Regions from separate parts of the Homo sapiens genome. Here regions 1 and 3 are each linked to region 2. Evidence: fine-mapped expression QTL. A gene starts in region 2. Each other region holds a variant in brackets. All regions are shown on one strand. Distances are from middle to middle. Region 1 overlaps LOC105370777 (a long non-coding RNA gene). Region 2 holds the start of THBS1 (thrombospondin 1). Region 3 overlaps LOC105370777 (a long non-coding RNA gene).

Region 1 (5,228 bases), 270 kb before region 2:
TGATCTCCATTTTAAATTCTGGATACACGGAGCTCAAGATGGCAACAAATCCAACACTAAAGAAACCGATACTCCTTAGGCACTTACTTTATGCCTAACATTGCTATGTGTGATTCACATGTTATCTCCATTAATCCCCATAATTACAGGGACACACTAGTATGACCCCCACTTTATAGGTGAAGAAATTGAGGCTCAGAAAATGGTTAAGCCACTTACTCAAGGTTGCCCAGCAAGTGATGGAGTCAAGATGAAAATAGGCAACCCGATTCCATAGCCCACATGCTCCATGGCCCTGGTGCTCCATGCTCTGTGCACAGACTGGCTGAGGCAGAGCTGCAACAGGATCCCTGACAGCTAAAGTTGCCATTACAATGATGATTCGTATCCTTCATTTAAATATAGATGAACACCACAAAATGACAAATGTATCTTTATGTTAAAGGTGTGTCCATTATGATGCAATAATTGGCCCTTTTAGCATTTTCATTGCCACGAATCACACATTATGTAACTATTACTAAGCTAATCCCACTAAAGCCTATTAATGTCAGAAAGACTTGGGTGTTTCACTACTAAACTGTCTCTGAGGATGTTTTAACACTTGTTCTTAGGCTGCATTTAATATCTGCAATTATGGGGAAAGGATGCCATGAAAACTATCCTTAAATCCTTTTTTATTTATTTTGTTTTGAGATGGAGTCTCGCCCTGTTGCCCAGGCCGGAGTGCAATGTCACAATCTCGGCTCACTACAACCACCTCCACCTCCCAGGTTCAAATGATTCTCCTGCCTCAACCTCCCAAGTAGCTGGGATTACAGGCGCCCGCCACCACACCCAGCTAATTTTTGTATTTTGAGTAGAGACGGGGTTTTACCATGTTGGCCAGGCTGGGCTCGATCTCCTGACCTCATGACCCACCCACCTCGGCCTCCCAAAGTGCTGGGATTACAGGTGTGAACCATAGTGCCGGCCAAATCCATTTTTAACACAACCAAACAAAACATCAACTTGATTGAGAGCTCCAGGACATTGATTGAGAGCTGTTGCCATATGTTTTTAGGCTCCAGTATATCAAGGCTAAAGTGCTCACCATTGCTAGAGGACAAAAACACACAGCAGCTGCTCAGCAATGCCTAAGCCTGTGGCCCAAGTCGAAAAGAATTAGACCAAGTATTACAGTAATCAGGCCTCAAGCAAGCAAAAGCCTGGCTCAATACTAAGAACCCCCTACTAATGGGGAGAGCACACCTCCATACTCCGGTGCCTGGGGAAACATTTCCCAGGAGTGTGGTGGTGTTCTGCCTGCTGGGAGATAGATACCATTAACCTCTCTTCTTACTATGTTTGAACTCCACTTGCACTCTTATCTCTGAATTTTGTCTTGTTTCCACTAAGTATTGCTTGCCCCTTCTTCTTCATACTCAAAAATATGGATGTAATATACCTGCCTCTAAGGCCCCTTTGAAAGTTCATCTTCACCCCCAAGTTAAACAGAAAACCCTCATGCATGTGTGCAGTCTGATTTCATCTTATGTGGCGCTCCTCCTACTGACAAAATATGTTCTCACTCTGAGAAGTTTCCCTGTGCCGCTTTAGTAATAAACAAATCCACCTGTGTTTGCATCCTAGGCGTTCTCAGTGTACCACACTTGAGCTCTGCCTCCCCGGTTAGGCATCTGCTCTGGAAGCACGAGGAATATTGCTTTCAGTCCTCTTATATTCCTGATACCCTTGACTTTGCAAGGCCTAGCAATACGCGGCACTTACTATAAATTAAATAAATAAAAATCCATTTAAGTCAATCAAACCAACAGCTCTCTGTTTCTCCTGTGAAATGGAGAGGCAGATGAGTAGCCCAGCATTCTGCATGGTTCCCCTGATGCACTCTCCCTGCCCACTGAAGCAGCCCTGCAGTTCCACCCAGTCATTCCCTGCTTCTCTGCACCATAGTGACGGGTCCACCTAGAAGGAAACTCCCTTTAAAAGTTGCTCCATTAAACTGATAAGAACAGATACTACACTTGATTTTAGCCAAGAGGATATGGAGAAATAGGAATGCTTTTACACTGTTGGTGGGAGTGTAAATTAGTTTAACCATTGTGGAAGACAGTGTGGCGATTCTTCAAGGATCTAGAACCAGAAATACTATTTGACTCAGCAATCCCATTACTGGATATATACCCAAAGGATTACAAATCATTCTACTATAAAGACACATGCACATGTATGTTTA[C/T]TGCGGCACTATTCACAATAGCAAAGACTTGGAACCAACCCAAATGCCCATCGATGATAGACTGGATAAAGAAAATATGGCACATATATATCATGGAATACTAAGCAGCCATAAAAAAAGGATGAGTTCATGTCCTTTGCAGGGACATGGATGAAGCTGGAACCATCATCCTCAGCAAACTAACAGAACAGAAAACCAGAAACTGCATGTTCTCACTCATAAGTAGGAGTTGAACAATGAGAACATATGGACACAGGGAGGGGAACATCACACACCAGGGTGAGGGGCTAGCGGAGGGACAGCATTAGGAGAAATACCTAATGTAGATGATGGGTTGATGGGTGCAGCAAACCTCCATGGCTCGTGTATACCTATGTAACAAACCTGCATGTTCTGCACATGCACCCCAGAACTTAAAGTATAAAATAAAATAATTATAAATTTTTTTAAAAAGTTGCTTCATTCTGGGGACAAGAGACCACCAAGCTGTTGCATGTTAGAACAGACCTACTGGGAGGCAGTAGAGGGCACTGTGGACTCATGCCCATGACACCCCCAATAAGCACACCTATGGCAAAGAGGAAGTGCCTAAGTCCACAGGTCTCGAGTTTGTAGTGCGCATACCTCCTGCCCAAGTCTATTGCTGCTGTTGCTTAGCCCTTTCAATATTCTTTTCTTACATTTTGTTTTTCTTAACTGTATCAAAGCTTGTGAAAAATTCATATCAGTTATTTCAATTTTTCTGAAAGATTCAGTAAATCAGATATTGTTTTAAAACAATCATCACCAAAGCCACGTGGCTTAGTGAGGATTGTTTTAAAACAGTCAATGAGGAAGTTAGGAAATAATTCTTCATCTCCAGACTTAATTGACTAAGTCCCAAAGATTATTACCCTATATTATCTCTTAAATCACACCCCCTCTTACTTAGGACAGGAACATACCCCTGAACAACAGTGCTCAGCTGAGGGGGTGAACAAGGCTAAAACCCAGCCAATCACTGCTGGCAAGGCCTTGAGCCCTGGCTCCAGGCTGCACCTGCCTTAGGAAGGGGCGTCTCTCTACGACACTGAATGGCCTCCTGTGGATCACCACAGACCTGCTTTAACCACCTTAACTGCAACCACCTTGTTCTTGGCCCTTATTTATACGTTGACCACTATGACCATCTCCTAACACTCCTAGAGGTAACTTAAACTGCATACACACACATATATTCATAACTGAACAAGCTTTATGCATATTTACAAATTAAATGTGCCATCACTGAAATTCAAATTAAAAGCATTAATCAAATGTGACCAACATACTGTTTGACTAAAATTGAACCTCTTCTGCTCCAGGGAGGATAAGGAGCTGACAGCTATGTTACAAGATCTATCTAGTTTTGTACTATATAGACCATGTGTTATGCAATGACTCAATATCCAATCAATGTTTTCTCTGATAAAGTCCTTCCAAACTGTCTGTTGGCATCATTTGGCCATTATGAAGTTTATGTTTGTTTTAGTCTCATTATGTGGAAACAGTTAAAGCAGTCCTACTGGAACCCAAATAATCTTATGTTCAAATGTCTACTTGGACTTAAATCTCATTTTAGTACACAGGCAATAAAATAATGATCCCGATAATCCAGATCCAGATAATCCAGAAGGTGCTTATTGTAGTTAAACATAAACAAAAGTAAGCTAATTGCTAAATTTAGAGCCCAAAAGGGCCAGACCACCATCATACCTGAATTTATAGATCAAAAGAAACCAAGTTGAAATCCAACTCTTTCCTTACAGGTTTTAATATTAGATGGCTACAGGAGGACTCAGGCTTAGAAAACACCACTTCTCATGCTTATGGTATTAAGCCCTCCTTTCAGTAAATAAGGAAGGGGATATATCCTCCATGAGAAACTTAAATAAATATAGCTGTTCTTCCACTGACCTATATTTCCTATCAGAGAACACCAAATACTATGTAAATAGAAAATAACTCTACTGTTGAGATAATCTATAAGAGGGTCAGCAAACCATAGCTTTAGGGCCAAATCCAGTTCTTGCCTTGTTTTTGTACTTCCTGAAAGCTAAGAATTTTTACATTATTAAAGGATTATTAAAAATGAATTTATAATGGAGACAGTATGATAGGTCACAAAGTCTAAAATTTTCTACCCTGTCTATGTAAAGTTTTCCAACCACTGAACTAGATAATACCCTAATAAAGAATATTACCAATGAAAACTACATAGAGCTATTCATCATTTCTATGTAAATTCACTGTCAAAAAATGATCATCAGAAATAAGATGGACATATTTTACCATCCATGAACTTTTATTTCTTGGACTTCTATGTAATAAGGGTTCATCAGTGAATGTCCATGTAGAACATTTTTTGTCCAGTCAAGTCTAATGTGTTTAAACTGGCCAGTATTTGATAAGACTAACATCTTTATCACAGCCTCCATCCTGAACTGCTTGCCTTCATCCAACTCAAGCCCCATTACCTAACGTTTTCCTGAATGTTAGTCCTCCTGAGAGCTCAATTTGCCCTCTTTGGGCAGCATTGCCTTGATCACAAATCTGCTGCTCAAGACCCCTTTTCTGGCTCTGATCTCAATTTCCATTTGCAATCACTCATTTGATTATGCTCTTCAGAACAAACCAGGATTGTCTCACTAAGTCTAGCCCGTTCTTACAAGACAGTTCTTACTGTACTTACTGTACAATGCAGCTGATGAATGCCCATACTGGGATGAAGCCAGGCATACTGTCACCCAGTGACTTGGAAATTTAATACTCAACTGATGATGCCAGGATAGGAAGCCAGCCAAACTGGCTCAGTCAAAACAAAAATCTTCTTTCCTTTCTTTTGATTTTTGCTCCAAAATGGCTAATTCATTTGATGGGGAACTTGAGTTTTCTTTATAGAGTGAAATTGAGAAAGATAATAATTAATTTTGAAAATATATACAGAAACATTGGAGCTCTAAGGCAGTCTGAG
Region 2 (5,228 bases):
TTTTCAGTAACTAATCCTCAAGGATGACAACTTGGCAAAAAAGAGAACTGGACCAGCTCCCTGAAAGGTCCATCACTTCGGCCCATGTTAATTGATTGCCTTAAAATCACAGTGCTTCCAGGTTGTAGAGACACACTCAAAATGGACTATTGCCCTCACATTAAAGGGGATAGGTTTTCTTTTCCCTTTTCCCATCCCTGCTTCTCTCAAAGCTGCACAGAGGTATATGAGGTTTGGGGAATATTTGCAGCACATGTTGGCTGGCAAGAATGTGGGTGAATTCCTGTTAAGGGGCGCAGACACTCCCTCTTCTATGACCTTTCCTTTCCACCCAGAACAACTGAAGTATCATGATAAGAGGAAGGGCTTTGTGTTTGAGATAAGCAGCTCCTATACCTGTCAGCTTTCTCTAATAAGAAAGCTCTTTCCTGCCACCGTATAGGTCACCTTCTTATTGGTAAAGCATGATGAAGTTTGGAAACTGTTGTCCTTGTTTTGTTGAAAGAAGCCAAGTTCCAAGAAATCTGCAGAGGCATTCCTACAATCCCTCAGCCATGGCAGCATGAATCCTGAAGGGGCAGTGAGTGCTGGTTTCTACTCTGTCTGCACAGCTAAGCCTAGGGGAGATAATCTTTTCATACAAGATGCATTCTGCTTTTGTGGGCCTCTTGCAGCCCTCAAGCCCCCATCTGATTTGTACACAATGATCCAGTGGGCCAGAGGAGCCCAGAGCCATGAGCGGCCCATCCCTCCAAGAACTATTTCTGACTGTCCAGTATCATGGAGCAAGTGGAAAGAAGAAAAAAAAAACCCAATTACTTTTCGAAGAGCAAGATGAATGCTGTAGAAGGAGAAGGAAGGGGAGGGAGATGGATGGGTGCCGATTCCAGAATCTTCAGATCTGCTTGGATGAATCATTACCTATGATTTGCGGGACAAGAATCTGATTTTATTCATCAACCAGTAGAAACTTTTCTTTCTGCCTCCCAACATCTGAAATCCAACAAACATGTGCCTTAGGAACATACCGGTCATCTTTTAGAGGCATTTTATATACATATTGAGTAACTAGAAAACACTCTTTCCGTAATACACACACACACACACACACACACACACCATCTTGTCATACAACACTCCCACGCAAGAAAAGCGAAACTGCTGTTTGATGAATGTAAACACTTGGCTGTTTGCAGCAGTCGGGAGTCCTGCCAGGTTTAAGTGCTAAGATGGGAGGTGAACCCCAGGGGTTTCCCCCTGCCCGTGCTGAGATCCTTATTTGGTCAAGCTTCTACCTATGCCCTGGCCTCGGAGCGAGCCCGATAGCGCTGGATCACAGCAGAGGGAGCGAGGCGGCTGACGTCCCATCCCGAAGAGATGAATGGAATTCCAGGAAGCTAGAGTCATGCTGGCTTGGGACAGTGGCTTGGAGACCAGACTTCAATGACAGAAGCACTAGGCAGCGGCACTCATGGCAATGTGTGCACCCACAGAAATGTAACCCACACCTCGGGTTCAGGAGCCGAAAAATGAAAAGAACGTTTAGGGAGGAAAAAGGGAAATACAATAATAGGCAGAGAGTAATTTATTACTCTATGGGTCTGCTCTGTAAATAGCTGAAGACTCTGGAGCCAGATGGTTCTGCAAATTCTCCAAACAGGAGTCACGTTAAGAAGCACGAGTGGGCACAAAAACTGTTTTTCAAGACACAATTTCAATTTGGCTTGTGGAAACTGGATACGAGTAAGTTTCCTTAAAATTCGAGTAGAAAGCAGCTGTCCTCCCCGGGCCCCTTGATGAGAATACGCACACCGCCCCCAAGCGGCCGGCCGAGGGAGCGCCGCGGCAGCGGGAGAGGCGTCTCTGTGGGCCCCCTGGCAGCCGCGGCAGGAAAGGGCCCGAAGGCAGCGAAGGCGAACGCGGCGCACCAACCTGCCGGCCCCGCCGACGCCGCGCTCACCTCCCTCCGGGGCGGGCGTGGGGCCAGCTCAGGACAGGCGCTCGGGGGACGCGTGTCCTCACCCCACGGGGACGGTGGAGGAGAGTCAGCGAGGGCCCGAGGGGCAGGTACTTTAACGAATGGCTCTCTTGGTGTCCCCTGCGCCCCGTCGGCCCATTTTTCTTTTTACAAAACGGGCCCAGTCTCTAGTATCCACCTCTCGCCATCAACCAGGCATTCCGGGAGATCAGCTCGCCCGAAAGCCCCTGCGCCACCCCGCGGGCCCTCCTAGGTGGTCTCCCCAGCCCCGTCCCTTTTCGGGATGCTTGCTGATCACCCCGAGCCCGCGTGGCGCAAGAGTACGAGCGCCGAGCCCGTGCGCGCCAAGGCTGCGTGGGCGGGCACCGACTTTTCTGAGAAGTTCTAGTGCTCCCAAGCCCCGACCCCCGCCCCCTTCACTTTCTAGCTGGAAAGTTGCGCGCCAGGCAGCGGGGGGCGGAGAGAGGAGCCCAGACTGGCCCCCACCTCCCGCTTCCTGCCCGGCCGCCGCCCATTGGCCGGAGGAATCCCCAGGAATGCGAGCGCCCCTTTAAAAGCGCGCGGCTCCTCCGCCTTGCCAGCCGCTGCGCCCGAGCTGGCCTGCGAGTTCAGGGCTCCTGTCGCTCTCCAGGAGCAACCTCTACTCCGGACGCACAGGCATTCCCCGCGCCCCTCCAGCCCTCGCCGCCCTCGCCACCGCTCCCGGCCGCCGCGCTCCGGTACACACAGGTAAGTCGCCCCCGGCGGCCGCCGAGGACCAAAGCTGCCCGGGACATCCACCTGGAGCGCTGAGGCTTCAGTCCCTCTGGTGGACCCCGGAACCTACACTCTCCCCGCTCGCCTACCCCAGCCCGCTCCTCTCAGCCGCTGGAGGACTCTTCAGGGCAAGGCTCCAGAGCCATCCTCTCCAGCCTTGAGGTTCACAAACCAACTCATCAGGACACCCCAAGATTTCCTTACTCTCTGAAGTCCTCCTTAAGCCTTTGTATCAGCACTCCAGGGAAGAGTCTGTACTTCCCCTGCCCTCCCTGCAACCCCAAACTACAGTTCCTGATCTTGCTCACCTTCGACTTCCCAAAAGCCCCCAAATTGTTGGTCTTGCGCCCCCCACACTTTAAAACCAGCATCTCTTTCCTCCACCTCTCTCTCTCTCTCTCTCTCTCTCTCTCATGCTCTCTGGAAAGTAATCCTGTTGTCCTTCATTTCAGCAAACGCGGGGTCAAAGAGGGATGGTCCCGGCCCTGTCCCCATGCCCAGCCCCGTTTCTGCGCACCGTCCCTCCCTGCCTAGCTGATCTCTGACCCTCGGCTCTTGTGCTTCCTGCTACAGGATCCCTGCTGGGCACCAACAGCTCCACCATGGGGCTGGCCTGGGGACTAGGCGTCCTGTTCCTGATGCATGTGTGTGGCACCAACCGCATTCCAGGTGAGTTTGTGTGGCACCTTTAGGGGAAGGAGGGACAAGGAAGAGGTGCTGGCTATCCCAGGTGTGCCCCCTCACGTGCTGTCCTCTCCCTCTTGAGCCTGACTGGACATCAGGACGCAGCTTCACTCTGATCCTGGTATTTATTCACCTCTTTCAGTGGTTGCCAGGAGTTTTCACCCCAACCCTTTGTCTCCACCCCTAAGGACTCAGCCCCCTACTGCTGGTCCCAGCCTAGAAAGCTCACTTTGTGTTCTCTCCTGTCTAACAGAGTCTGGCGGAGACAACAGCGTGTTTGACATCTTTGAACTCACCGGGGCCGCCCGCAAGGGGTCTGGGCGCCGACTGGTGAAGGGCCCCGACCCTTCCAGCCCAGCTTTCCGCATCGAGGATGCCAACCTGATCCCCCCTGTGCCTGATGACAAGTTCCAAGACCTGGTGGATGCTGTGCGGGCAGAAAAGGGTTTCCTCCTTCTGGCATCCCTGAGGCAGATGAAGAAGACCCGGGGCACGCTGCTGGCCCTGGAGCGGAAAGACCACTCTGGCCAGGTCTTCAGCGTGGTGTCCAATGGCAAGGCGGGCACCCTGGACCTCAGCCTGACCGTCCAAGGAAAGCAGCACGTGGTGTCTGTGGAAGAAGCTCTCCTGGCAACCGGCCAGTGGAAGAGCATCACCCTGTTTGTGCAGGAAGACAGGGCCCAGCTGTACATCGACTGTGAAAAGATGGAGAATGCTGAGTTGGACGTCCCCATCCAAAGCGTCTTCACCAGAGACCTGGCCAGCATCGCCAGACTCCGCATCGCAAAGGGGGGCGTCAATGACAATTTCCAGGTGAGGCTTCTTCTCTGAGCCCTGCTCCGTGGGATCATCTGCTAGACAGGTGACCTGCCAGGAGGGCTACAGGAAATCCTGTCTGTAAACTAACGCAGCAGTTCTCAGATTTTAGGCAGCATGAGCATCACCTGGAGGGCTTGTGAAAGCTCACCCTGCTGCACCCCAGCCCCAGAGTCTGGGATTCTGTAAAACTGCAACTCTAACAAGTACCAGGTGATGCTGATGCCGGTGGTCTGGGAAGCACACTTTGAAAACTACTCAAGGAAACAAGAAATGGTTTTCCTTTAGCAGTCAGCCTGTTCAAGCCTTAGATACTCCTTAGGCTCTTAAGAAAAGAGCTTATTTCAAATGCATTCCCCCAATTTTAATCTTGTTTGAAATGGATACTTTCTATGGGCAGAATCAGTACCACTTTGCTATTGGATTCCTCATGGGGATGCAGCTGGTCTCACATAAAAGGTTAAAATAGCAGTTAGTTGTTGCTGTTACAGCTTCATCTGTGCCTTAACTTCTAGATCTTTGCAACGGTGGCTTTGAACTCCCACATTTAACTCTTTGACACTGGAAAGTGTCATTATATCCTCTAGGCTTAGGATCAGATTCCATTTCCTGTGTACCCAAGTAGGCTGATAACTGAATTCTTTGTAAAATACTCAAGACTTGGCAGAAGTCACAATTAAGATTTTGAAGTTGTTTGGCGATTAATGTTGCTGTGTTATTTTGACATAGTGATCTTAAGACAGCTCTTTGAAGCTTTTAGAACATCTATTGTATGCTTTTCCTAGCATACAGACAGTCTCCCCCAACCCCATCCCCACCCCGCTCTGCATTCTACAAGTAATGTGTGTCCTCTGCCCACAGGGGGTGCTGCAGAATGTGAGGTTTGTCTTTGGAACCACACCAGAAGACATCCTCAGGAACAAAGGCTGCTCCAGCTGTGAGTACCCCTCTATTTTTAGGGCACATAGGGAATCAGGGGGAATTCCACCAAAAA
Region 3 (5,228 bases), 250 kb before region 2:
ATCTGCCCACCCTCAGGTGTGTCCTTCCAGGAGAACGGCTTGGAAAACTACAGAGAGTAAATGCCTTCAGCTGAATTATCAGCCAACACAATCTGAATTTCACATCTGGAATACCTTTTTCAGACCCACCTTTCTTACATACCACAAGGAATAATAACTATGTCTGAGTTGTGCAAAGAGAGTAATAATGTGTGAATTTTTTTTAAAATTTCATAAGCAGAAGGATTTATTAATGGATGAATGTATTTTCAGTCTTCCCCTCCTTCCCAAGGGTTCTTTTTTTCCACTGGCGCTTTCTTTACTACACTTAATTCTACCTATCATAAGTTAATTGGCCCCAATCCATGGACAATAATACAAAAAATGTTTTTTATATTACATTTTTATAATGGGAAAAAAATGCTTTTTAAAAAACTTTTTTTTGTTTTGTTTTGTTTTGTTGAGACAGAGTCTTGCTCTTGTCCCCCAGGCTGGAGTGCAGTGGTGCAATCTCGGCTCAATGCAACCTTGGCCTCCCGGGTTCAAGTAATTCTCCTGCCTCAGCCTCCCAAATAGCCGGGATTACAGACACCCACCACCATGCCCAGCTAATTTTTTTTTTTTTTTTGTATTTTTAGTACAGATGAGGTTTCACCATGTTGGCCAGGCTGGTCTCGAACTCCTGACCTCAGGTCATCTACCTGCCATGGCCTCCCTAAATTGCTGGGATTACAGGCGTGAGCCACCACGCCCGGCCCATAAGTAATTTTTAAAAGCATGTATAGTCTTGGTTTTCTCTTTGACATTTCCATGCCTCTCCCGTTCCCCTTTGCATCTCATTGGTGCCATTCTTAAGCTCCATCAAAGGCTGCCATCCTATGTCCTATGTACCTCGTTCCCCAACAGAGGGGCAAACCTCTCTTTTCCTGGACTCCACACTGAATTTCTTCTGTAAGCTTCAAGAAAGAATTAGATCAAATTCAGTTAAAAATATTGCCATCTCCTTTGAAGCTCTTTTGGAAAAAAAAAAAATTTATTTAAAAACTTACAATCACTACCCAGAAATTATACTTTTTGAACTCTTCTCAAGGTCTGCCTGTACCTTGATGGATTTCTCTCAAATGGTGTCGTATCATGCTCTCTTCTCACGTGCCACATTATTTAGAAAGAACTCAAGTGTTTCAGGAGAAGAGAAGTGCTCACAAGAGAATGAGATTGAGGAAAGCACAGCTATATTTTTACCATCGTCACCCAAACCCCCAAATTGATGAGCTAATCTCTCTGTCAGACTTAGCTCATCCATTACTGCTACATGTTGGGTGTTTTTATCTCCAGCCCCAGGACACTGGGTTGTAATGGAAGTACCTCTGCCAAGAGATACTGATAGACAGAAAAGAGGTAGGACCAGGCAAGCAAAGCCCCTATCTGATGAGGCAAAGTACATTTTTGGCTCTAATGTTATTGTATGTAAAGTAGGTCAAGAAAGTTATGTGAATTTTAAGACAGAAAAGGAGATGTGTTTACACTGGTTTATGACATGGCTACCAGATGCAACTTGTTCCTGTGGAAGGGAAAGGAAGAAGAACCATGTCTCAGTTTAAATATTTGACTGGTTCCTCCAAAAGCTGTTAAGATGACAAAGAACTAGGAAAGCGCAGAGGGAAAAGACAAAGAGAATTCTAGAAACTTACTCCAGACTTGGAAAGAAGTGTCTAATAAAGGGGGAAGAAAAGCATCTCAGCTTGCAACAGCGATTCATTCCTTCTCACAGGCTCTCTCTCCTCACTTCCCCATCATCAGGCATTGTGTACGTTTTTCCTATGCCCCATCTGAGAGTCTCCTTATGATCAAGTCACTGGATTTGACAATATCGTTACCTGGACAACTGAGGTATGGAAAACAGAGCTGCAGTTCAGATAAAGCTTCAACAGAAGTTCTCATTGTTCTCCCAGTTAATGTCCACCACCGTACACACAGTAGTTCAGATTACATACAGATTTCCATTCTAAATGAGCTCCTAATTAAAAATAAAGCCCTCCCTCCATCTGCTCATAACTCTCACAAACCTTTTTTTCCCTTTGAGCTCAACCTCTCAAGCTTTGTCTGTGCCCAAATGCAGATTACACTGTAAAGTCTGCAGTGCTTTGGCATGAGGTAAGAGTGACAGAATGTATTTTTTTAACTTGATTCTTTTAAAAAAATACAGTCTTTGAAAATAAATAAGGTGAAAATAACTTTACATGCTACCTGCATACTTTGCATGTTACGAGTTCAGAAGAACAGCTCTTTGTCCAAAAACTCCGTCAAACAGGAAGGCTCAAAGCTGATTTTGACGCACATGTTATCTATTAAATTTGTAATTGCAAAATGTCCAACGTGACTCGAAAGTGTGAAAAGGTCATTGCCCAACCATGTGGTGCTGCAGCTTGTATCTGATGGGGAGAGAGGGGTATATGTGAAAATTATGAAGCAACTCAAAACGGTTTAGGCAGAAGCAGCTTTTGTCCCATACATAGAGAGAAGAGCTTTGTACATAC[C/A]CCCTTGAAATTGCAGAAATTTGACTTTGCTCAATACCACAGTGACAAAACTTGGACATAGGGATTTCCCCTTTTCATCTGTGCAGTTGGTTAACTTTCTATGCATTTTGTTTAAAATCAAATATTAAAAATTCCCTTTAAAATATGGTAAGATCTTCTACTTCCATCCTCTGCTCCCCTCCAGAACCCACCCCTTCGTCCAAAAGGACAAGTCAAGACCAACATTCACAGGAAAGGTAACTTCCCTTGTGAACACATAACATGATGCCCATAAGCACAGAGCAACTCTGGCTGCTGGAAACATTTCCACAGCATTGCAAAGACCTGCTTCTCTTTTCATACTTCTCTCCCAAAGTTCAACTATATCTTCTTTTCAAGTGCTCCTCCTTGGAAAATCCTACATGTTTTGAGGATCTGGCAAGCTACCTTTTTATGCATTTATTTCACCTATTATTCTTAGGGTAAACTATAAGAGTAGTTCCTCCTAGGAAAGGGACTGCATACGGTCCCCTTAACTCAGTCCCTCAGACTCTCAGGGTCCAGGGCTGTACTCAGCATTTGAGTTAGTCTTAGAACTAAAGCAAGCCTGTGTGATAGCTCAGATGGCACCAGTCCCAGGCATCCTCACCTGTGCTGTCTTGGGAAGGCCTTTCTGGAGGCCGGACTGCACTCCGGCTTCCTGGGAGCATGACTCTTGACTTAGGACAAGCAGTGACAAGTGACACAGGGCTTGTGCATTCCTCCAATAGGGCTACAGTGCCAGTTGGTTGAGGTCAACCTAATCTTGGCCCACAAGACTTTGAAAGTGAGAAGAGTAGAGAAGATATAGCCTTCTTTTCTGAGGACCCAGAATCCCTATTCCTTGTATTCGTTCATTCTCCAGCATTGCTTATCAAAAATAGAGTCACTCCATCTTCAAAAGAATAACTTGCAAGCACAAAGCAACTTTTGAAAAATAAATTGCCCTCCTCCAATTGAATTCTTAGATTGATGTTATTTTCTTGGAGAAGAAGTTGGCAAAGTTTTTATTCCATGAAACCTCAACTCATCCAAACCTCACTCAAGGATAGTATGAGTGTTTCTTCCATCACCTAAACCTGCCCATCCAGACAGGTTCTATGCCAGGCACAGTGAATGCCACCGTGACGGTTAATGTGACAACCAGGACTTCTTGGGATATGCCTACTTGTGAAAGACAGTGAAAAGACATATAGCACAGAATCATAGATTTATAAAACCAGAAACAAACAGCAATGGCCACCCAGAAGAGTCCTTTTCAGTCATTCCATCACGGCGCTGAGTTTTGAAAGGTCTGTGTGGAAAAGAGTTTGTCGTTGACTGGGCTGGGATAAACCTGTGTGTGTGTGGGAAGCTGTTCTACAGAAACATTTTAAAAATGGAGTTTATATTTACCTGCATCATATTTTAATTCAAATAAAAGAAATATAAGCACCAACTATCAAAAATAATCTCTGGGTTTGCTTATCCACCTGCCCTGTTGTTCCCAAGCTCCCGAAAGCCCTTTCAGCTTTACTCAACCTGTGCCTCAGTCTGGCTATGACCACCCAGTAACACACTGTACCCTTTGCTGACTGTGAGCTTCGCTATACCCAGTATCGTATTCCAAGACCCTATTCTCCAAACGAAATATATCCCATTCTAAAAAAAACCAGTTCAAGTTTGCTTCTTGCAGGATGACTTTCTTAACTTCATAAGGTACAGATCAAATGACAGTTACATGTCTCTCCTGCCATTTGATTTCCAAAACAGGTTTCCCATGAATCCCCAGCAAAGCATATGGCCCATTCAGAACTTATTTCACATGTAAACTGTATTAATATGCAACTCATTCTAGTCGAGATTAATAGGTTAGAAGCAAAGGCACAAAATCTTGCTTTTCTTTCCTTAGCATCTGTGGATGTAAATATGGTTACTGTGGATGGAAGATGGGATGAAAAAAAGGCAACAGACTGAAACTCTGTGCTTGCTGATCTGTGTCCTGGGATTAACTAGATATTTGGCCTTGGATAGTCACTTCCTCTCTGTGAGCTTCCATTTCTTCATTTGTTATGCTATGAAGACTGAGGTATATGATGGATGTATAATGGCTAAGTCCGTAACAAAGTTCTATGAAGAAATTATTTCATTCATTTATTCCAGAAGCATTTTCTGAACACCTATGGTGTGTTTGCTTCTATGCTTGGTTCTTGGAACACAGCTTTGAAAAGACAATTAGAAAACTCTCTCTCTGATTTTATGTGGCTTACAGTCTAGCAGACATCTAATAGTCCATTAACATACCCTGTATTAGTCCATTTTGTGTTGCTACAACAGAATATCTGAGGCTGAGTAATTTATTTAAAAAAAAAAGGTTTGTTTGGCTCACAGTTCTGCTGGCTAAAATGTCTAAGATTGGACAGCTGTATCTAGTGAGGGTCTCATGCTGCTTCTTGTTATCTGAGACAGGGTCTCGCTTTGTCACCAAGACTGGAATGCAGTGGTACATTCACGAAGCACTGCAACTTCCGCCTCCCAGCCTCAGACGATCCTACCACCTCAGCCTCCCAAGTAGCTGGGACTACAGGCACAGACCACCATGCCCAGCTAATTTTGTTTTGGCTTTTAACATCGCAGTGATTATCTGCATCAAGCTACTGAGTAAGGAACTACAGGGCTGGGAAGCCTGCATGTAGGAGGGAGTTGATGTTAGTC

What was found. PIP is the estimated chance that this variant, and not a neighbour inherited with it, causes the effect. A credible set is the group of variants that fine-mapping cannot tell apart.
Region 1: its variant is the best candidate, but not a certain one, in a credible set for the expression of THBS1 in blood mononuclear cells (TOPMed, PIP 0.75).
Region 3: its variant is the best candidate, but not a certain one, in a credible set for the expression of THBS1 in whole blood (INTERVAL, PIP 0.82).

What each region holds. Positions count from the first base shown.
Region 1 is chr15:39,310,398-39,315,625 of GRCh38, forward strand. All of the region lies in intron 1 of LOC105370777 (a long non-coding RNA gene), which reads right to left. Among named protein-coding and RNA genes, the nearest start is that of LINC02915, 62 kb to the left of the region's middle. The variant C/T (reference allele first, on the strand shown) is at 2,237.
Region 2 is chr15:39,578,522-39,583,749 of GRCh38, forward strand. THBS1 (thrombospondin 1) reads left to right here and starts at 2,558. Exons shown (of 22, transcript NM_003246.4): 1 at 2,558-2,707; 2 at 3,308-3,403; 3 at 3,672-4,231; 4 at 5,096-5,171. The coding sequence starts at 3,337. It overlaps LOC124903470, which reads left to right and starts at 1,286. Exons shown (of 1, transcript XM_047433405.1): 1 at 1,286-2,473. The coding sequence starts at 1,797. The coding sequence ends at 2,231. RefSeq lists an enhancer at 1,649-2,386 and silencers at 1,809-2,038, 2,049-2,098.
Region 3 is chr15:39,324,739-39,329,966 of GRCh38, forward strand. The region is part of intron 1 of LOC105370777 (a long non-coding RNA gene); the gene reads right to left. Among named protein-coding and RNA genes, the nearest start is that of LINC02915, 77 kb to the left of the region's middle. The variant C/A (reference allele first, on the strand shown) is at 2,517.